4 linked regions of the Homo sapiens genome follow. The protein of the gene in region 4 purifies or fractionates together with the protein of the main gene of each other region. This does not show direct contact. Each region holds a gene or a part of one and is shown on either strand. Other genes may lie near its edges.

The links.
Region 1: the proteins of FERMT2 (region 4) and USP46 purify together in Homo sapiens (co-immunoprecipitation; one large-scale study listed by IntAct). This does not show direct contact.
Region 2: the proteins of FERMT2 (region 4) and DFFA fractionate together in Homo sapiens (co-fractionation; one large-scale study listed by BioGRID). This does not show direct contact.
Region 3: the proteins of FERMT2 (region 4) and TXNRD2 fractionate together in Homo sapiens (co-fractionation; one large-scale study listed by BioGRID). This does not show direct contact.

The regions. Positions count from the first base shown.
Region 1 is NC_000004.12:52,620,374-52,625,057, forward strand, and holds part of USP46 (ubiquitin carboxyl-terminal hydrolase 46), read right to left. Parts: intron 1-4,684. UniProt on the Homo sapiens protein: Deubiquitinating enzyme that plays a role in behavior, possibly by regulating GABA action. May act by mediating the deubiquitination of GAD1/GAD67.
Region 2 is NC_000001.11:10,461,602-10,466,285, reverse strand, and holds part of DFFA (DNA fragmentation factor subunit alpha), read left to right. Parts: intron 1-2,665; coding exon 2,666-2,855; intron 2,856-3,076; coding exon 3,077-3,228; coding exon of another isoform or gene 3,229-3,252; exon of another isoform or gene 3,253-4,583; coding exon 4,584-4,684. UniProt on the Homo sapiens protein: Inhibitor of the caspase-activated DNase (DFF40).
Region 3 is NC_000022.11:19,892,480-19,897,074, forward strand, and holds the end of TXNRD2 (thioredoxin reductase 2, mitochondrial isoform 5 precursor), read right to left. Parts: intron 3,103-4,595; coding exon 2,928-3,102; intron 2,722-2,927; coding exon 2,654-2,721; 3' UTR 1,429-2,653; downstream 1-1,428. UniProt on the Homo sapiens protein: Involved in the control of reactive oxygen species levels and the regulation of mitochondrial redox homeostasis. Maintains thioredoxin in a reduced state. May play a role in redox-regulated cell signaling.
Region 4 is NC_000014.9:52,877,274-52,882,391, forward strand, and holds part of FERMT2 (fermitin family homolog 2), read right to left. Parts: intron 4,556-5,118; coding exon of another isoform or gene 4,523-4,555; intron 4,197-4,522; coding exon 3,971-4,196; intron 3,866-3,970; coding exon 3,763-3,865; intron 1,417-3,762; coding exon 1,309-1,416; intron 1-1,308. UniProt on the Homo sapiens protein: Scaffolding protein that enhances integrin activation mediated by TLN1 and/or TLN2, but activates integrins only weakly by itself. Binds to membranes enriched in phosphoinositides.

The DNA of each region.
Region 1 (4,684 bases), on a different chromosome or scaffold from region 4:
CCATATCATAAACTCATGAAGTAATCTGTTCTTCTTCTTCACGGCATCTTGCAATTATAATTACTTAACTAATTATTCATTTTGTCATTAAAGTCTGTCTCCATGCTGGAAGTTCTAGAAAGGCAGGGCTCTCACTGTACGCTCAGTGCTTCAGGCTTTTACATAGCAAATGTGGGAAAAAAACCCCACATATTTACTGAATAAAAGAATACTGTACAAAGCCACTAGATTAGCAAAAGTGAAGACATGAGAATAGCAGGGACAGATGATGTAGAGAAATGAAAGCACTCGCTCATATACTCAGTGTGTAAAGTGGTATAACCATTTTGGGAATTTGACACTTTCTAATGATGTTAATGAAAAGCATACCATATGACCTAACAGATTTACCTGATGTGCACATCCTAGAGAAAATGGGTTCAGGTGCACTAGAGTAAATGTATTAAAATGCTCATAGCTGCATTGTTCATATTGCCCCAAACTGGCAATAGCCAAATATCCAACAACAGTAAAATGAATTAGTAAACTGTGGCACATTCATGCAACAGAATACCATACAGCAATAAAAACGAATAAACTAAAGCATCATGCAACAACACAAATGAATCTCACAAGGGATACTGAGCAAAAGGCAAAACACAAAGGATACATATTTATATGTATCAAAATATCAAAAACAAGCCAAACTGAACTATATATTTCAGATATGCAAAAATAGGTCACCAGTTCTATCAAACATTCAAAGAACAGATAGATAAAAACTTATAGAAGCTCTTCCAAAGAAAAGAGAGAACTAATTTTACAGAATGTTGATAGCAAAACCAGACAAGTACAGTAGAGAGAGGAAAAGTTCAAGCCAATCTCAGCAATAAATATAGTGGCAAAAAAATCCTAAAAATCGTAGATCTCACAATCCAACAATGTATATAAAAGATAAAGCCCCAATTCAGTTTATTACAAAAATACAAAGTGGGGTCAACATTAGAAACTCTATTAATGTTACTGCACACTGTGGCTCACGTATGTAATCCCAGCACTTTGTGAGGCTGAGGTGGGCAGATCACCTGAGGTCAGGTGTTCAAGACCAGCCTGACCAACTTGGTAAAACCTCATCTCTACTAAAAATACAAAAATTAGCCGGGCGTGGTGGTGCACACCTGTAATCCAGGCTACTCCAGAGGCTGAGACAGGAGAATTGCTTGAACCTGGGACGCAGAGGTTGCAGTGAGCCAAGATCGTGTTACTACACTCCAGCCTGGGTAACAGAGCAAGAGTCTGTCTCACACACATAAAAAAAAAAAAACCTCTACTAATGTAACTAACTTACCACCACTTTAGAAACAATTTGGCACTACCTAGGAAATCTGAAGATGCACATGCCCTATGGCCAGCAATTCTGCTCCCAAAAGGATACCCCAGAGAGAATTTTGCCCATGGGGACCAGGAGATAGTTTGTAGCAGCACTGTCTACAAGCCAAAAACTAGACACACCATAGAAGAACAGAAAAACAAACTGCAGTATATTCCTACAATGGTATACTACAAAATGATAACAATGAATGAACCATGCTACAAGAAATGGCCAATTCTCAAAAATATTAATATAACCTTTAATGATAATAGCAAGTTTAGAAGAATACATGTATGTGATTTCATCTATATAAAAGCCATAAACATGCAGAACTAAGTAAATGTCTAGAAATACACATGCGTATGTATGTACAACTACAAAGAAAAGATAGTATTGACACACAAAATGGAAGACAGTGATCACCTCCTGGGCAAAGGATGAGACTGAGAGGAAAATTAAATTGCAAAGAAGTACACAGTGGGTTTCAAAGTTATTGTTAATGTTCCATTTTTTTATAGGTGTTGGGCATATGGATTTTTTAAACTATTCTTTAAAATGTATATGTGGCCTATATATAAACATACGTTATACACACACACATATACTTCTTTAAAAAAATGATATATTTCCTAATTTAAAAAATAATTTCAAGACTTACCAGTCTAGACCAGGCTTTACTATAAATCATTCCTCAATTCTACCTCATGAAATAAATCAAAATCTTTTCCCATAGCATATAGTTTTCTTCTTCAAGAAACATGACAAACATTTTCATTTATTTATTCACTCAACTATTTATTAATTATTATATGTCAAATACTCCTTGGGCACCAGAGAGAGAAGCAAGACCGACACTATCCCTGTCCTCATCAATCTTACAGTTTAGTAAGAAAGATAGATGCTGCATACGAAATACATATAGATAAATATATAAATACAACAAAGTGCTATCACAGAAAATTAGACTATTGTAAGATGATACAAGGTGACTTCATTAAGTTGGAAGTTCAGAGAAGGCCTCTCTCGGGTTTTAACACAAGTTGAAACCTGAAGAGGATTTAGTCAAGCAACAGGGGCAGGTGGTGTGCATTCCAGACAGAAAGTGGCATGTGCAAAGGACCTGAAGCAGGAAGGGATTTGAAAGGCTTGAGAAGCTACACTGAAGCTAGAGTAAGAAACAGAATGGCAAAGATGACCCTGCAGAGACAGACAGAGCCAGCTTACATAAGAATTTGTAGGCAGTGGTATTTTCAGTGAGACTGCAGGCCACTACTGTACTTTAGGTAGGAGAGTAACATGGAGGAAGGCCAGAGGAAAAAACAGAGAATCCAGTAGGAGTTACTACAGTAGTTTAGTTGAGACTGCCAGCCAAGAGTTGATGGGTGCCTGAGCCAGGATGGGAGTAGCAGGGAGGAAGAAAAGTATCTTAAGGGAGATAGAGCAGACAGGGAGTGGCAACAGAATAGATTTAAGAGGTGAGGTAAGGATGGTGAGAAGGAGTACACCCTTATTAAATGAAAAAGACTGAAAATCTGTCAATTGTCATATTTACAATATAGCCCTAATTTTGATGTTTAAACGTATACAAAGTTATTCTGAAAATAAACTGAATATCAAAAGGAATAAAAAACTATAATGGATTAAAACACATGAAATATGTTAAAATTCATGAGTTCATCACAAAATGGTAACACAAAAGACAGAGGGCGATAAAGTATATTAAAGGCTCTAACTGTTGGAAAAGTGGAAACAAAATGAAATAAGTCAAGGATGCATGTTGTAATCTCTAGAGCAACCTCTAAATGAATTTGGAAATGTAATACATTAGATGCCAAAAAAATGAAAAATATTTCATTGATCCAAAAGAAGAGAGAAAAATGAATATAAAATAGATTAATTAAATAAAAACAAAAAGTAGGGGCCAGGTGCAGTGGCTCACGCCTGTAATCCCAGCACTTTGGGAGCCCAAAGCAGGCAGATTACTTGAGGTCAGGAGTTCGAAACCAGCCTGGCCAACATGGTGAAATCCCATCTCTACTAAAAATACAAGAGTTAGCCAGGCGTGGTGGTGGGCGCCTGTAATCCCAGCTCCTGCTTAGGCAGGAGAATCACTTGAACCCGGGAGGCAGAGGTTGGAGCGAGCTGAGATCAAGCCACTGTACTCCAGCCTAGGCAGCAGAGCGAGATTCTGTTTCAAAAAAAATTAAAAAAATAAAATAAAAATAAAAACAAAGAGTAGGGTGGTAGAAACATACTGCCATTTTACCATACATGTTAAAGTACACCACAAGAATGTTTCCAGAATGTGGGAAATGCTATAGGACAAACACCCTGATTTCTTTAAAAAATAAATTGCAAGGTAAAAAGGGTGTGTTGGGGTTGGGGGGTTGGCGGGGAGGATTAGGATTGGCCAAAGTGTTAACAATCACTGATCCTGAATAATACACACATGGGAAATACCATACTACTGCCTCTACTTTTGTATTCATTTGAATTTTACTGGAATGTAAAGTAGAAAGGAACAGAGGGAAAATGGGAGGGAGAGAAGAAGAGAAAGCAATACAGAGACAGTGGCAGGGAGGGAAGATCTCTGGATACTTATTGGCATATTTATGTGCAGAAAGTGTTTTGACAGGATATATTTTTAAATGTTCAAGTGGTTATCTCTGGGCTAATGTGATCACAAATTTTAGAACGTTACAAATTCACCATCTCTGGGTGGGAAGATTACCGGTAACTTTTAGTCTCTTTTTGTTTAGCTGTGTTTTCTCATTGCTTCTACAATGGGTAAAACAGAATGCTTGACTCAAAAATTGTTTAAAAGCATGGAAGAAAGACTGCCAAAACCTAAAAACTTCTCCCTTTACATAGATGTTGATGTGTAAGTCTACATTTCTTAAACATTTCTGGGTCACAGCTCGCAATGGACTGAATGTCTGTGTCCTCCCAAAATTCATACTTTGAAACCCTCATCTCTAATAGGATGGTATTTGGAGATGGGCCTCTGGGAGGCAAACAGGTCATGAGGGTGGAGCCCTCATGATAAGATTTGTACCCTTATAAAAGGAGACCCGAGAGAGCTTGCTTTCTCTATCTCCACCAAGTGAGGACACAGCCAGAAGACAGCTGTCTGCAAGGCAGAAAGAAGGTCCTCACCAAGAACCTGACCCTGCTAGCACCTTCATCTGGGACTTTCAGCCTCCAGAACTGTGAGAAATGAATTTCTGTTGTTTAAGCAACTCATGAGGGATTGCGTTGTAGCAGACCAGACTAAGACACAGGCTCTTTGCAAAATCTGACAAAAGCTACTACCTCTCTTTCCAGAAAAATGCA
Region 2 (4,684 bases), on a different chromosome or scaffold from region 4:
CCTGAACCCAGGAGGTGGAGCTTGCAGTGAGCCGAGATCGCACCACTGCACTCCAGCCTGGGTGACAGAGAGAGACTCCATCTCAAAAAGAAAAAAAAGATTGGGATAAAAACAGTATGTTTTCATTCAAAGAAAATTTCTCTTTGAGACAGGGTCTTGCTTTGTCACCCAGTGCAGTGGCATGATCATAGCTCACTGCATCCTCGACTTCCTGGGCTCAAGCCATCCTCCCACCTCAACCTCTCAGGTAGCTGAGACTGTAGGCTTGCACCACCACACTGCGCTATTTTTTCTTTTTTTTTTTTTTTAATTTTTGTAGGCCAGGTGCAGTGGCTTATACCTGTAATCCTAGCATTTTGGGAGGCCAAGGTGAGCAGATTGCCTGAGTTCAGGAGTTTGATGTGGTAAAACCCTATCTCTACAAAAATTAGCTAGGTGTGGTGGCGTGTGCCTGTAGTTCCAGCTACTCAGGAAACTGAGGCAGAAGGATCACTTGAGCCCAGGTGGTCAAGGCTTCAGTGAGCCATGACTATACCACACCAACCTGGGCAACAAAGCAAGACCCTGTCTCAAAAATAAATAAATAAATAAATAAAGCCAGGCGTGGTGGCTCACACCTATAATCCTAGAACTTTGGGAGGCCGGGGCGGGCAGATCACGATGTCAAGAGATCAAGACCATCCTGGCAAACATGGTGAAACCCCGTCTTTACTAAAAATACAGCCGGGCACGGTGGCTTAACGCCTGTAATCCCAGCACTTTGGGAGGCTGAGGAGGGTGGATCACAAGGTCAAGAGTTCAAGACCAGCTTGGCCAAGATGGTGAAATCCCGTCTCTACTAAAAATATAAAAATTAGCCAGGCGTGGCGGCAAGCACCTGTAATCCCAGCTACTCAGGAGGCTGAGGCAGGAGAATCACTTGACCTGGGAGGGGGAGGTAGCAGTGAGCAGAGATCACGCCACTGCATTTTAGCCTGGGAGACAGAGCAAGACTCTGTCTCAAAAAACAAAAAAATTACAAAAATTAGCTGGGCGTGATGGCGTGTGCCTGTAGTCCCAGCTACTCAGGATGCTGAGGCAGGAGAATAGCTTGAACCCAGGAGGCGGAGGTTGCGGTGAGCCGAGATCACGTCATTGCACTCCAACCTGGTGACAGAGCAAGACTCAGTCTCAAAAAAAATAATTAATTAATGTTTTATAGAGAGGAGGTCTTCACAGGTTGCCTAGGCTGGTCTTGAACTCCTGGGCTCAGGCAGTCCTCCCACCCTGGCCTCCCAAAGTGCTGGGATTATTGATATGAGCCTCTGTGCTTGACCCAAAACATATTTATTGAGCCCCATCCTGTGCCTGTCATGGTTCTATGCACTGGGTGTGCAGTGGCGAACAAGCCAGACACAGTCTCTGCTCTAACGGTACTTGTATTCTGATGAAGGGAGGCAGAAAGCAACAGGAAAGCATATCAGACAGTGGTATGCAGAGAGTGATGGAGGCTACTCTAGACTGGAACACGGAGGAAGGCCTCTTTGAGGAAATGATTTCTTGGTGTTTTTTGTTTTGGTTTGGTTTGGTTTGAGACAGGGTCTAGCTCTGTCACCCAGGCTGGAGTGCAGTAGTGCAATCTCAGCTCACTGCACCATCTGCCTGCTGGGCTCAAGCGATCCTCCCACCTCAGCCTTCCAAGTAGCTGGGACCACAGGCGTACTCCACCATGCCTGGTGAATTTTTATATTTTTGGTAAAGACAGGGTTTCACCATGTTGCCCAGGCTGGTCTTAAACTCCTGAGCTCAAGCAGTCCTCCTACCTCAGCCTCCCAGAGTGCTGGGATTATAGGTGTAAGCCACTACACCCGACCCTTCTTCCCAATTTTAACACTAAAAGAAAATTAGAAAAATTGGCCGGGCACGGTGGCTCACACCTGTAATCCCAGCACTTTGGGAGGCCGAGGCGGGTGGATCACAAGATCAGGAGATCGAGACCATCCTGGCTAACACGGTGAAACCCCGTCTCTACTAAAAATACAAAAAATTAGCCAAGCGTGGTGGCAGGCACCTGTAGTACCAGCTGCTCAGGAGGCTGAGGCAGGAGAATGGCGTGAACCCAGGAGGCGGAGCTTGCAGTGAGCCGAGATCGTGCCACTGCACTCCAGCCTGGGTGACAGAGCGAGACTCTGTCTCAAAAAAAAAAAAAATTAGAAAAATTACATGCTTTTCTCTTGACTGTCTGCCAACTATCATAGTAGGTAACTTTGGGAAATGGATGCATTGAGTTCTGAAATGGATGTATTTGAGAGGTAGAACACCGTGTTTAGAAAGTCCTTGTAGGCCGGGCGCAGTAGCTCACACCTGTAATCCCAGCACTTTGGGAGGCCAAGGCGGGTGGATCACCTGAGGTCAGGAGTTCAAGACCAGCCTGGCCAACATGACAAAACCCCGTCTCTACTAAAAATACAAAAATTAGCTGGGCTTGGTAGCACATGCCTGTAATCCCAGCTACTAGGGAGGCTGAGGCAGGAAAATTGCTTGAACCCAGGAGGCGGAGGTTGCAGTGAGCCGAGATCACACCATCGCACTCCAGCCTGGGCAACAGAGCAGACTCCGTCTCAAAAAAAAAAAAGAAAGTCAGAAAGTCCCTGTAGATTTCTAAGCGTCTGTGTTTGTTTGTTAGATGCTTGTTGACGCTCCCTGCTCAGACCTGGCTCAGGAACTACGTCAGAGTTGTGCCACCGTCCAGCGGCTGCAGCACACACTCCAACAGGTGCTTGACCAAAGAGAGGAAGTGCGTCAGTCCAAGCAGCTCCTGCAGCTGTACCTCCAGGCTTTGGAGAAAGAGGGCAGCCTCTTGTCAAAGCAGGAAGGTAGGACTCTCTGCAGGCAGAGTCACTCTGAGAATTCAGGGCTGATGGAGGCGTCCCTTGGGAGGACACTATTTGTGATGTAGCCAGGGCCACTGAAGCCGCGGCTGCTGGGATGCGGGACGGGCACGTTTCTCTCTTGCCCGGCCAGTTATTCTGGCGAGTTGTTCATGTGGCTGTGTGGTCACACCACGTCTGATCTCTGTCTCGTGTCTCCTTTGCAGAGTCCAAAGCTGCCTTTGGTGAGGAGGTGGATGCAGTAGACACGGGTATCAGCAGAGAGACCTCCTCGGACGTTGCGCTGGCGAGCCACATCCTTACTGCACTGAGGGAGAAGCAGGCTCCAGAGCTGAGCTTATCTAGTCAGGATTTGGAGGTGGGCGGAAACCAGGGTCACTGAGCTACAGAGGAGGACATGCCCTGGGATGTAGTAGTATCATGCAGAGGTGTGTGGGCCCTTTTGTTCACCTCTGCAGACTGTGAATCCTAGCTGCCAGTTTGCCTATTATATGCCAAGGCATTTGCAAAAATCTCATTAATCTAAATCAAAATAGCTTTAAAGAAAAATGCATACACTTCCTCAGATCATCAAACAGACTCTGGTCCAAGGTTGGTAATGAAATGACTGTTCCTGACAGGGAGGAATAGCAGGGCCCAATCTTCTGAGATGGCTTCTGGGTCTTTCCATGGTCAGAGAAGATCTATAGTCCGTCCTGAGGTCTGTCAATGTCACAGGAAAAGGCAAACTTGAGGGGATCGTCGCCTGCTGGCTAAGACCAGGGAGCTAAAAACTTGAGGAAGGGAACCTGCCTGGGTGGGTGCTACTTCTGATTCATTGTCCTTGTCCCTGTCATAAGTACCTCCCTATTGTAGATAGAAGGGAAGGAAACTGTTGACTTGAGCTTGGCTAAATTTCCTGAAGGTGGAGGACCTTAGAGTTGCTCCAAGTAAACTTTCCAAGGACTTCTTCCTGTTGGTGTTGTAAGAAAAGGCCCATGCTTGTCCGGGCACAGTGGCTTACGCCTGTTAATGCCAGTACTTTGGGAGGCCGAGGCAGGTGGATCACCTGAGGTCAGGAGTTCGAGACCAGCCTGACCAACATGGCGAAACCCCATCTCTACTAAAAATACAAAAATTAGCCTGGCATGGTGGTGGGAGGCTGAAGCAAGAGAATCACTTGAACCCAGGAGGTGGAGGTTGCGTGAGCTAAGATCGCGCCACTGCACTCCAGCCTGGGCGACAAGAGTGAAACTCCGTCTTAAAAAAGCCCATGGCAGGCTGGGCGCGGTGGCTCACGCCTGTAATCCCAGCACTTTGGGAGGCCAAGGTGGGCGGATCACAAGGTCAGGAGATCGAGACCATCCTGGCGAACACGGTGAAACCCCGTCTCTACTAAAAAAAATACAAAAAAATTAGCCAGGCGTGGTCGTGGGCACCTGTAGTCCCAGCTACTCAGGGGGCTGAGGCAGGAGAATGGCGTGAATCCGGGAGGCGGAGCTTGCAGGGAGCCGAGATAGTGTCACTGCACTCCAGCCTGGGTGACAGAGCGAGACTCCGTCTCAAAAAACAAAAAGCCCGTGGCAATTAATGGTAAAGGAAACCCGGCATTTCAGTGTAAAGAGGTAACATAAACGGATACTGCCTCATTGCACTCCCCAAAAGAGAGTCAGGAGAGCAGCAGGAGAGGCGCACAGAAGGCCCAGTTCTCAGGGGTTTTTATTCTTGCTGCAGTTGGTTACCAAGGAAGACCCCAAAGCACTGGCTGTTGCCTTGAACTGGGACATAAAGAAGACGGAGACTGTTCAGGAGGCCTGTGAGCGGGAGCTCGCCCT
Region 3 (4,595 bases), on a different chromosome or scaffold from region 4:
AGTACAAAAAAATAAAACAGACTCCTAGCAAGGGAGGATGGGCGTGCAGGCCACGGCAGCTCTGCTGAGTAGGGAGGGGCCTCGCTTGTTGCCTGCCAGGCTGACGCCCCGGCTTTCCGGGGACACAGCCCCCGGCCCATTGGTCTGCTACATCCCTATGGGCTTGGTCGAGGGCTGCCCCTCGGTTCAATGGCAACAGCTCCCTTATGCTGTGGGTGAACGGAGGTGTCAGCAGACAGAGGAGGAGGGCTAGGGCGCGGTGGGAGGGAGAAACTCGCCACCTCCCCTTTAGAGTGGAGTTTATTTGGGAATGACAGTAGGAGGATAAATTTTGAAAGAAAAATAAAGTGGAGTTTAGGATGAGAACCATCAGTACACTCCAGAGTCCAAAATGTTACCTAATCCTTCGTAGTGTTTATCATAATAAACTTACTTAAAATCTACTTTTACAACGTGGCTGAGAACATTGCTCTTGCTGACTGATCACCTCCGGGCCAAGAGCCCTGCGTGCGCTCAGGCATCTCAGGTCCTCCCCGGTCATCACCTCTGCGCTTGTGTCCACTGCACAAAAGTGAAGCCTCAGCCGCTCCAGGCTGGTTTCCTTTCTGATTTCCCATTCCGAGTGACTGCTTCAGAAGTGCATCACCCTATGACACAGCTTGTGCCTCTGGGAGCCCTCCCCCAGGAGACACTGACCCCTGGCCAGCCCCACGCAAGCCCGGTTAGCTGATGGAGGTGGAGGCAGGTGATCTGAGAGGGACCCTGGCTCTGATCTTGGGCTCTCGCAGGGGACAACGGACCAGGCTCAGCACAGAAAGGCCTCGGAGAACTAACAACACTGACTAGGTTGCTCCCGCCTTCAACATGCAAGTTGACAGGGTGATTGGGAAAACTAGGAGCCTAAACTAGACGGCCAGGCACCGAGGTGGGTAGGACATCTGAGCAGGCATGCTGTGTGTGCCGCCACCCACCCTGACGAGGACCCGCAGCCCTCCTTGCGGCGGCCCATCTGCAATGGCCTCCTCTGCAGCAGGCCTGGGACAGAGCAGTGTCTGGGCGATCCCTGTTGGCTCCAGCTGCCCCTTGCCAGTCCCGTCAGACAGCCCCGGCCCAGGCCTGGGCACAGGTATCCCCTGGCTGTGTCCACACTCCCCACACCTGCTCGGCCACTGCCCCATGCAAAACCGGACCTACACCTGACAGAGAGCAAGAAGGTGAGACCAGACTGTGCCCAGCAAGTTGTAGCCAGCCCACGCCTGGCCGGGAAACGCCCAGGCCTCTGCCCAGCACTGGAAGGGTGATGTCTTTGGAAGCCTTCGAAATGTGACTTCTGGAAAGGCCTGCAAAATGCCACTCCTGGCATGTGATGACCTGCCAGGCCCAAAGGGACCCACTGGGAAACACTGAAAGCCACGAGAAGGCTGGACAGAACTTTAAAAACTCTGTGTCATTTTTATGTGCTGAAAACAGGCGGCTTGTGCACACCCATGTTCACAGCAGCATGATCCACAACAGCCAAAAGACGGAAGCAACCTAAGTGTCCACTGACAGATAATGGACACACATACAACTCAGCCTTCAACAGGAAGGAAATGCTGGCACATGCTACACAAATGCTAACTCTAACAAATGCTGCAACATGGATGCACCCTGAAAACATTGTGCTAAGAGAAATGAGCCAGTCACAAAAGGACAAACACTGCATGATTCTACTTACATGAAGTCCCTCGAGGAGTCAGATCCATAGAGACACACAGTGAAGGGTGAGTGCCCGGGCAGCAGGGAGTGAGTGTTTAATGGGGACAGAGCTCAGTTTGGAGATAATGGAAAAGTTCTAGAGATGGATGGTCATGCTGCTTGTACAATATGAACGTACTTAACACCACTGAACTATATACTTTAAAATGCTTAAGATGATGAATTTGATGTTATGTGTATGTCACCATAATTTTTAAAACTTTCAAATCCATATCATTTTTATGTTAAAAACAACAAACTAGCTTGGCTGGGCACAGTAGCTCAAACCTGTAATCCCAGCACTTAGAAGGCTGAGATGGGAAGATTGATTGAGCCTGGGAGGTGGAGGCTGCAGTGAGCTATGATCACACCACCACACTCCTCCTAGGCAACAGAGAGAGACCCTGTTTCACACGCAAAAAAAGAAAAAAACCTAGCTGGAAAGCCTGAAGCAGCAAAACATTTAATATGCTAAAGAAAAAATACATACTGGCCAGGTGCGGTGGCTCACACCTGTAATCTCAGTACTTTGGGAGGCCAAGGCAGGTGGATCACAAGGTCAGGAGATTGAGACCATCCTGGCCTACATGGTGAAACCCCGTCTCTACTAAAAATACAAAAATTAGTCAGGTGTAGTGGTGGGCGCCTGTAGCCCCAGCTACCCAGGAGGCTGAGGCAGGAGAATCGCTTGAACCCGGGAGGCGGAGGTTGCCACTGCACTCCAGCCTGGGCGACAGAGCGAGACTCCATCTCAAAAAAAAAAAAAAAAAGAAAAGAAACATACCAAGACTTAAACCTGGAAGGTGACAAGTAGGATTTATGTGCTGAAACCTTAATAAGCAATTGCTCAAGGGCCAGGGAAGGCGAGGATGATTGCCTAGTTGATCCTCGATGAGGACACCTGGCTGATGCCGTCTCAGTCTCTTCTCTGGTTTTTTCCAGCATGTCCCACGGTGGTGGGGAGACACGCAGAGATGCAAGGTGCTGGGGATGGCAAGATGGGCACAGCCTAGTGTGAGTGCCGCCCCACAGGCCTTCACGGTTGCTCTCGAGGTGCACTGGGGAGCGGCCAACCCGCCTGGCAGCCAGCAGGATGGGGGAGCCCTGGGAGGTGACAGGAAGTGGGGCAAAGATTCTCCATGCACCTCGGGGAGACCAGAGACAGAGCGTGTGGCTCGACGTGCCCTTACCTATGGCCCACAGGACGGTGTCAAAGGTGCCCGTGTCCTCCTTGCCGGTGGTGCTGTCCTCCCAGGTGACCTGCAGCTGGCCATCAGGGAGCCTCCTGACCCGCGAGGGGGCACAGCCCCTCAGGAACCGGGTGCCATGAGATGCCATGTGCTCTATGACCATGGAGGACATTTGCTGCAAAGCACAAGAAGACAGGCCATGAAGACCAGGTGGCCGTGGGAGAGAGGCTCTGGCCCTGCCCTGCTCTCGAAGGCCTCAATGAAGGGCGGAGAGGGGTCTGTGCGGAAGACGGGGTGAGACACCCTGCCCCCTGCTCTACGTCCTCTTGCTCTCTGTGGAGTGTCTAGCCCCTGTCCTGGCTCCAAGTCCTCAACCCTGGGCCCTATGGTCAGGATTCACTCAGCCTGTGGGCTCCTCTCTAGATGCTAATTAACTAAGTCTTCATCAGCCAGATACGGTCACACCTGTAATCCCAACCTTTTGGGAGGCTGAAGTGGGAGAATCCCTCAAGCCCAGGAGTTTGAGGCTGCAATGAACTGTGATCACACCACTGCACTCCAGCCTGGGCGACAGAGTGAGACTCTATCTCTAAAAGAAAAAATAAGCAAGGCCGGGTGCGATGGCTCACACCTGTGATCCCAGCACTTTGAGAAGCTGAGGCGGGCGGATCACGAGGTCAGGAGATAGAGATCATCCTGGCTAACACGGTGAAACACTGTCTCTACTAAAAAACACAAAAAATTAGCCAGGCGTGGTGGCAGGTACCTGTAGTTCCAGCTAACTGGGAGGCTGAGGCAGGAGAATGGCGTGAACCCGGGAGGTGGAGCTTGCAGTGAGCCGAGATTGTGCCACTGCACTCCAGCCTGGGTGACAGAGTGAGACTCTGTCTCAAACCAAAAAAAAAGAAAGAAAAAAAAGAAAAACAACCAAATCCTGGTACATCTACACATTTCTTTAAAAAACAAAAACAAAAAACTTAGTCTTCACTAAAACCAATGGCAGAGAAGCGTGCCTTCCCCCAGGAGCTGTGCCCTGGTCCAACAAGATGGCCCCTGCTCCTGGCCCACCCCTCCACATGTGGCCAACATGCCCCTCTGCCATCCAGGAGCCAGGAGGGTAGGTAGGAGACTCTGCTCCCGCCTAGAAATGTAGGCACAGCAGGCTCAGGTCCAGATCAGGGACAGAGAGAGTCCTGCTTCTCCCTCCCGGCCCAGGAGGCCTGTGCGCCCCAAGTCCAGCTACAGATGGGGGCCCTGTTCCCAGGACAATGGGGACTTGCACGGACCAGCAGTGAAGCTGGCCACAGCTTCTGGTTTCAAGAGGAGAAAAACAGTCACTGCTAACATCCTCTGACACCTGTGCGGGTGTGCCAGCTGGCTCTAGATGGCGTGTGTGGGAGTCTGGCCCGCCGGGCAGGGCTGGCTGTGCTGCAGAGGGGCTGCCGCACAGGCTGTTCATCACTCCTGCACCCCTCCAGAGGCCTGGAGGGCATGGCCATCCCAGGCTCTGAGGGAGAACCATGGAGCCTGTCCAGGACACAGGGTCCCTCGCCCCTCAGCCTGGCTGCCTAGACTGTGCATCCTCCTTGCCTGGGCACGGCCCCCATTCTGCAGGCCCCTTTCCTCCTCCGTCCACTGCCAGCTCACCCTCCCCACATCTGAAGGCTC
Region 4 (5,118 bases):
TCATTGGCAAAACCTCCACTAGAAAATCATAAGCCTGTATCAAAGTGAGGAGGATGCAGGAAGAAAGCCATAACCACGTGAGGGGACTCCCAACAAACTGCTCCAGAATTTAATTCAAGAAATTCACCAGAGAGTCAGAATTATCTGGAAACACAATACGGGATCCTAACTGGCTCATTAATCAAGTTCCTAGAAAATAACTGATTAATCCATCTGTCACCTGGGATTTATTTTCCTTGTCTATGCTTCTTTGCCACTCCTTTCATTATGTAAAACTAAGGTGAAAATTAGCTGTTCTTGCTTTTTTTTTTTTTTTTTTTTTTTTGCTAACCTCACTCCCCATTCTTGCTTTCTAATGTCAACTTTTTGGGTCACAACTGAAAACTTTTCTGGATGCATAAAGGAGGCATTTGGAAGACTGAGAGCATTTTTGTTTGTGTTCTAAGGAAAAACAAAATCCCTTCTACAGTGAAAAGTTCTTCAACTGAATGTCAACTCTGCTTCCTGTACTTCTGTTATTTATAGAACACCAACTTCATCAGGACTTTAGGCTGAACCTAGAATCCCGTCATAACTGGGAATACTTGCCAAAGCATTACTCGGGTATCTGAAATTTAAGAAAGATGAATTAATTTGGTCATCAGACCTCAGTATCTGTAAGAATGTGGATGTGTGGATGCCACCTTAAAGTTATTCATGAAGTGGATAATTAATTTTTAAATAAGCTCCCCTATAATTCTGAAGGAGGTGGTATGTAAGAACCACATATGAAAAAACTGGTTTAATCTAAGGACAATGTTAGCTATCTACTTAAGGATTATCATTGTAGAAAAAGGTTTGGTTCCACTAGTCTCTCTAAATCTTATCACCTAAAAGCATCGCTTTGCTACAGCCCATTTTATAGTGTGTTGTATCATCCCTGGCTATTTATGAAATTATACAGGTAAGCTTCAGATTAGATTTCAGAAATCTGATTTTTAATAAATATTTTCTTTCCAAGGAAAAACTGAGGAGCTTTGAGCAGATTTATATTTGGGGGTGAGAGGATAATTTTTTTCCTACAAAATAGGATAATTTTTTTCCTACAAAATAGAGAAAAGTACTTAAGTATACCACTGAACTCTTGGAAAAGATAAAAAATCAAACTAAAATGTATTTGTTTTGCTTTCCTAAGTGTCTACTCACTTTCTTCATGGCAAAAATTCTGTCTCGTGAAATGTTACTGGAATTACTATTCCACTTTACTGTTTAAAAATACCTCCCTACCCTTTACCGGAATAAGTCCCATTTACTAGACCTTTCAACTACCTGCAGGGCTGCAAACATCATCATTTCTTCTTCTGTGCATTCAATCTCTTCCAGGAGAATGGCCCATTTGGCCTGCTCGTAAAGCTGATTGATTCTGATTGCATCATACTGCAACAAGAGAAATAGTTCTTTTGTAATATATAACCTTTACCATTGAAAAATTTCAAACTCTGAATATTCAATTGACAAGAAAAATTTAATGCTTTTTTTCCTGGGATCTTAATTTACAAGCAAGAATTTTTATTTACAATCAAGTATTATTAGAAGGATACCTATGGGGTCAGACATGCCTATATATGCCCACATCTAATTTTCCATTAAAAATGACATTAAAATATGACAGAGAATAATTGATTGTACAGTATTAAAAAGTAGATTCTGTATGTTATTTTTCAGGGAAATAACCACTAGACATTATAGCCTTTAACATAAGAAATCTAATTTGATGACATTAAAGTAAGGCGGAACTACCGATTATTTTTCAGTGTTATTACTGCAACTTGCCATACAAACATGTAATCAGAAAGCAAATTATTCTGGGGAACATTTTGTTCACTGTGGAGAAGCATACCCAGATAAAGTGGCAAGTCCTTGGAAACGGCAGTTATTTTAAGTATGCAAAATACAGGGCAAATATACTTGTGGAAAATGTTTACTTATATGTTATTCAATTATCCATTTAATTATATAAATAAAAGTCAATAGTAATGCCTTAAGAATACTGCAGATTGAGTATCCCTTATCCAGAATGCTTGAGACCTTCTGTGTTGAATTTAGAATTTTTATAGATGATGGAATATTCCATTATACCAGTTGAGTGTCCCTAACATAAAAATCCAAAATGAGCATATCCTTTCAGCATCATGTCAGCCCTCAAAAGTCTTAGCTTTTGGAGCATTCTACATTTTCAAATTAGGAATGCTCAACATGTATTTTAGAACGTTGACAAAATACATCTCCATTCCCCTCACAAATGTAACTATTCCCAAAGTAGCTTTGGCTTTACTAAAAGTAGGTATGATGTGGCCTGAAAATGAATTAAAATTATTTTCTATAATTTTATTATAGAGATTTTACTGTTGTATAAAGAATTACTTAAGCATATAATAAAAGAATGTAAACATAACATTAAAATCTAGACTATACTCTAAACATGAAAAGGATGAGAGGGTAGCCAAGAGAGGTTTCTTTCCCCAGGCTGAAAGAGAAGTAAAAGATTCAAACCTCTGTGCCAAGTGTTTTCTACGGGGGAAAAAAGCTCCAGATATTTATGGTAAAGTTAAATCTTACCAGAAAAGTGAAGTACTATGGTAGCAGAGATAATACCAATCATAGTAAAGACAAGTAACAGTGTTTGTCTGTTACAGAGGAAAAAAATGTAGACCTAAGAAAAATTTGGCTGAGCATGGTGGCTCAGGCCGGTAATCCCAGCACTTTGGGAGGCTGAGGCAGGAGGATGGCTTCAGCCCAGGAGTTTTGAGACCAGCTTGGGTGAAATAGTGAGACTCTGTCTCTACAGAAAATAAGAAAGCCAGGTGTGGCTGGGTGAGCCTGTAGTCCCAGCTACTTGGGAGGCGACGTGGGAGAATGGCTTGAGTCCAGGACTTTGAGGTTACAGTGAGCCATGATCATACCACTGCATTCCAGCCTGGAGGACAGAGTGAGACCCTGTCTCAAGAAAAAAACGTTTTTTTGAAGCAACATCTTTTGGCACGTAATTAGTAATCTAAAAGTAATTGAAAAGGTAACCTTTTTGAAACTTTTATTTAAATATAGTTGAAGAGAGGTCTTATATTTTAAAAATGAACTTTGCCAATTCTTTTTTTTGTTTGTTTGAGATGGAGTCTTGCCCTGTTGCCCAGGCCGGAATGCAGTGGCATGATCTCGGCTCACTGCAAGCTCCGTCTTCCAGGTTCAAGTGATTCTCCTGCCTCAGCCTTCCAAGTAGCTGGCATTACCAGCGTGTGCCACCATGCGTGGCTAGTTTTTGTATTTTTAGTAGAGACGGGGTTTCACCATGTTGGCCAGGCTGGTCTTGAATTCCTGACCATGTGATCCGCCCACCTTGGGTTCTCAAAGTGCTGAGATTACAGGCGTTGAGCCACTGCACCCGGCCTAAACTTTGCCAGTTCTATAGTACCAAAAGAGTACCTTTAAAATACAAATCATGACACTCTAAGAGCTTAGAGATTAAAAAAAAGATAAAACCAAATCAGCCAAAAGTTTCATTATCTTAATAACAACAATAAAAAGGTTTAGTTATGCTTCCAACCTACTAAAATAGACTTATTTAAAATACAAATACCTTTGCCTAAAAGTTTGGGTTTTTAATAATTATTCAAGATTTCCTATATACAAATAATTCCTTATTCCACCGACTTCCAAAAACAAACATCCATGTGAACAAAACAAATTAATGGGGAAAAAAAAAAGATCCCTTTAAACCCTCGGTACCTTTGGATTCAAATCAAAAAAGCTGTAATACTTGAATCGGAGCAGCAAGGCCTCATTTTCCTTCACATCTTGTTCCATGAGAGATCTTGAGGAATCAAGCCATCTGGACAAATTAAGAACAGTGGAACAAAACAACACAGAATGAAGACAATATTTCTACCTCTAGCTGGATGAAGAAATTCAATTTTATCTATATCTTAAAACTTACCCTTGGTTGATTTTTGCTTTATCAAGAAGAGCTTGAGGCTTGAACATTTTTGCCAAGATTTCTGGTGACGTGATTGGTTGACTGACAGCAAGTATACCAGGATTGCCTTCTGACAAAGCACTGTCACCAAACCAAGCAGAAGTTGGTGACAAGGGGCTTCCATCATGAGCATCATAAGTGGGGGTCATTGTTTTACTATACAGTCCTGGGCTTGAATATATACTTCCTAATAAGTAACATGAAAAACAGGTAGTAAGTATGCAGTACAGCATCTTATTTTTCAATAATAACACATATTATGATATAAAGCACATTGTGAAACAAAAGTTTTATTCTGAAAGGAAAGCTTAGTATATTATTTTACCTGTTATGAAAACATGTGTAATTAATTCTCCTTGTATAACATTAAAACACGTAATAAAGCCTTAAGAATATAATTAAGTTGGCAGAAATTCTGGGGAAAAAAAATCAGTTCAAGAGAATTAGAAAATAAGGATATAGCTGAAGCAGACAGACCAACACTTTTTGTCTTTAAATTGTGGCAAGGCTCACCTTTCAGAGGGCCAATGTAAAGAACATCAGTGCCTATAGGAAAGGAAAGAAAGGAATTCAGAAGGTAAAGGAAAGGCCACAACAGAGGACAGAAACAAAAGAATGAAAAGAAAATGAGAAAAAGAAAAAACAGATTTTCCCTAATTGTGAATCATAAACTGAAGTACACATTTCAAGTGGATTTCAGAGTAAAGAACCTTAGAAGCTACAACCTAAGTAAAACGGTTTTTTTTGTTCAATTTAAAAGAATGAAGTTGTGCTGTAGTCAAGTATATAGTGACAAATATGTCTACAACTTTTACCACCATTTGAAATCCATACAATTTGAAGGTAACACAATAGAACTGAATTCATATAGATTAAGAATAATTTTATAGTAAAGTCTTCTCAGTGAATAAACAGGTTTCAACAATTTTACAAATAAAGTTTTTTTTAATTTTTAAGTTCTGGGGTACAACAAATAAAGTATTAATGTAAAAGGGGAGATAAAAGTCTGCCCTAGAAAGAGTCTAAACAGAGATATATTTAATAGTCAAATCTCAAAAGGAAGGGATATTGCCTTATTTATCTTCTGATTTCTTAGTATTAGGGCTAGA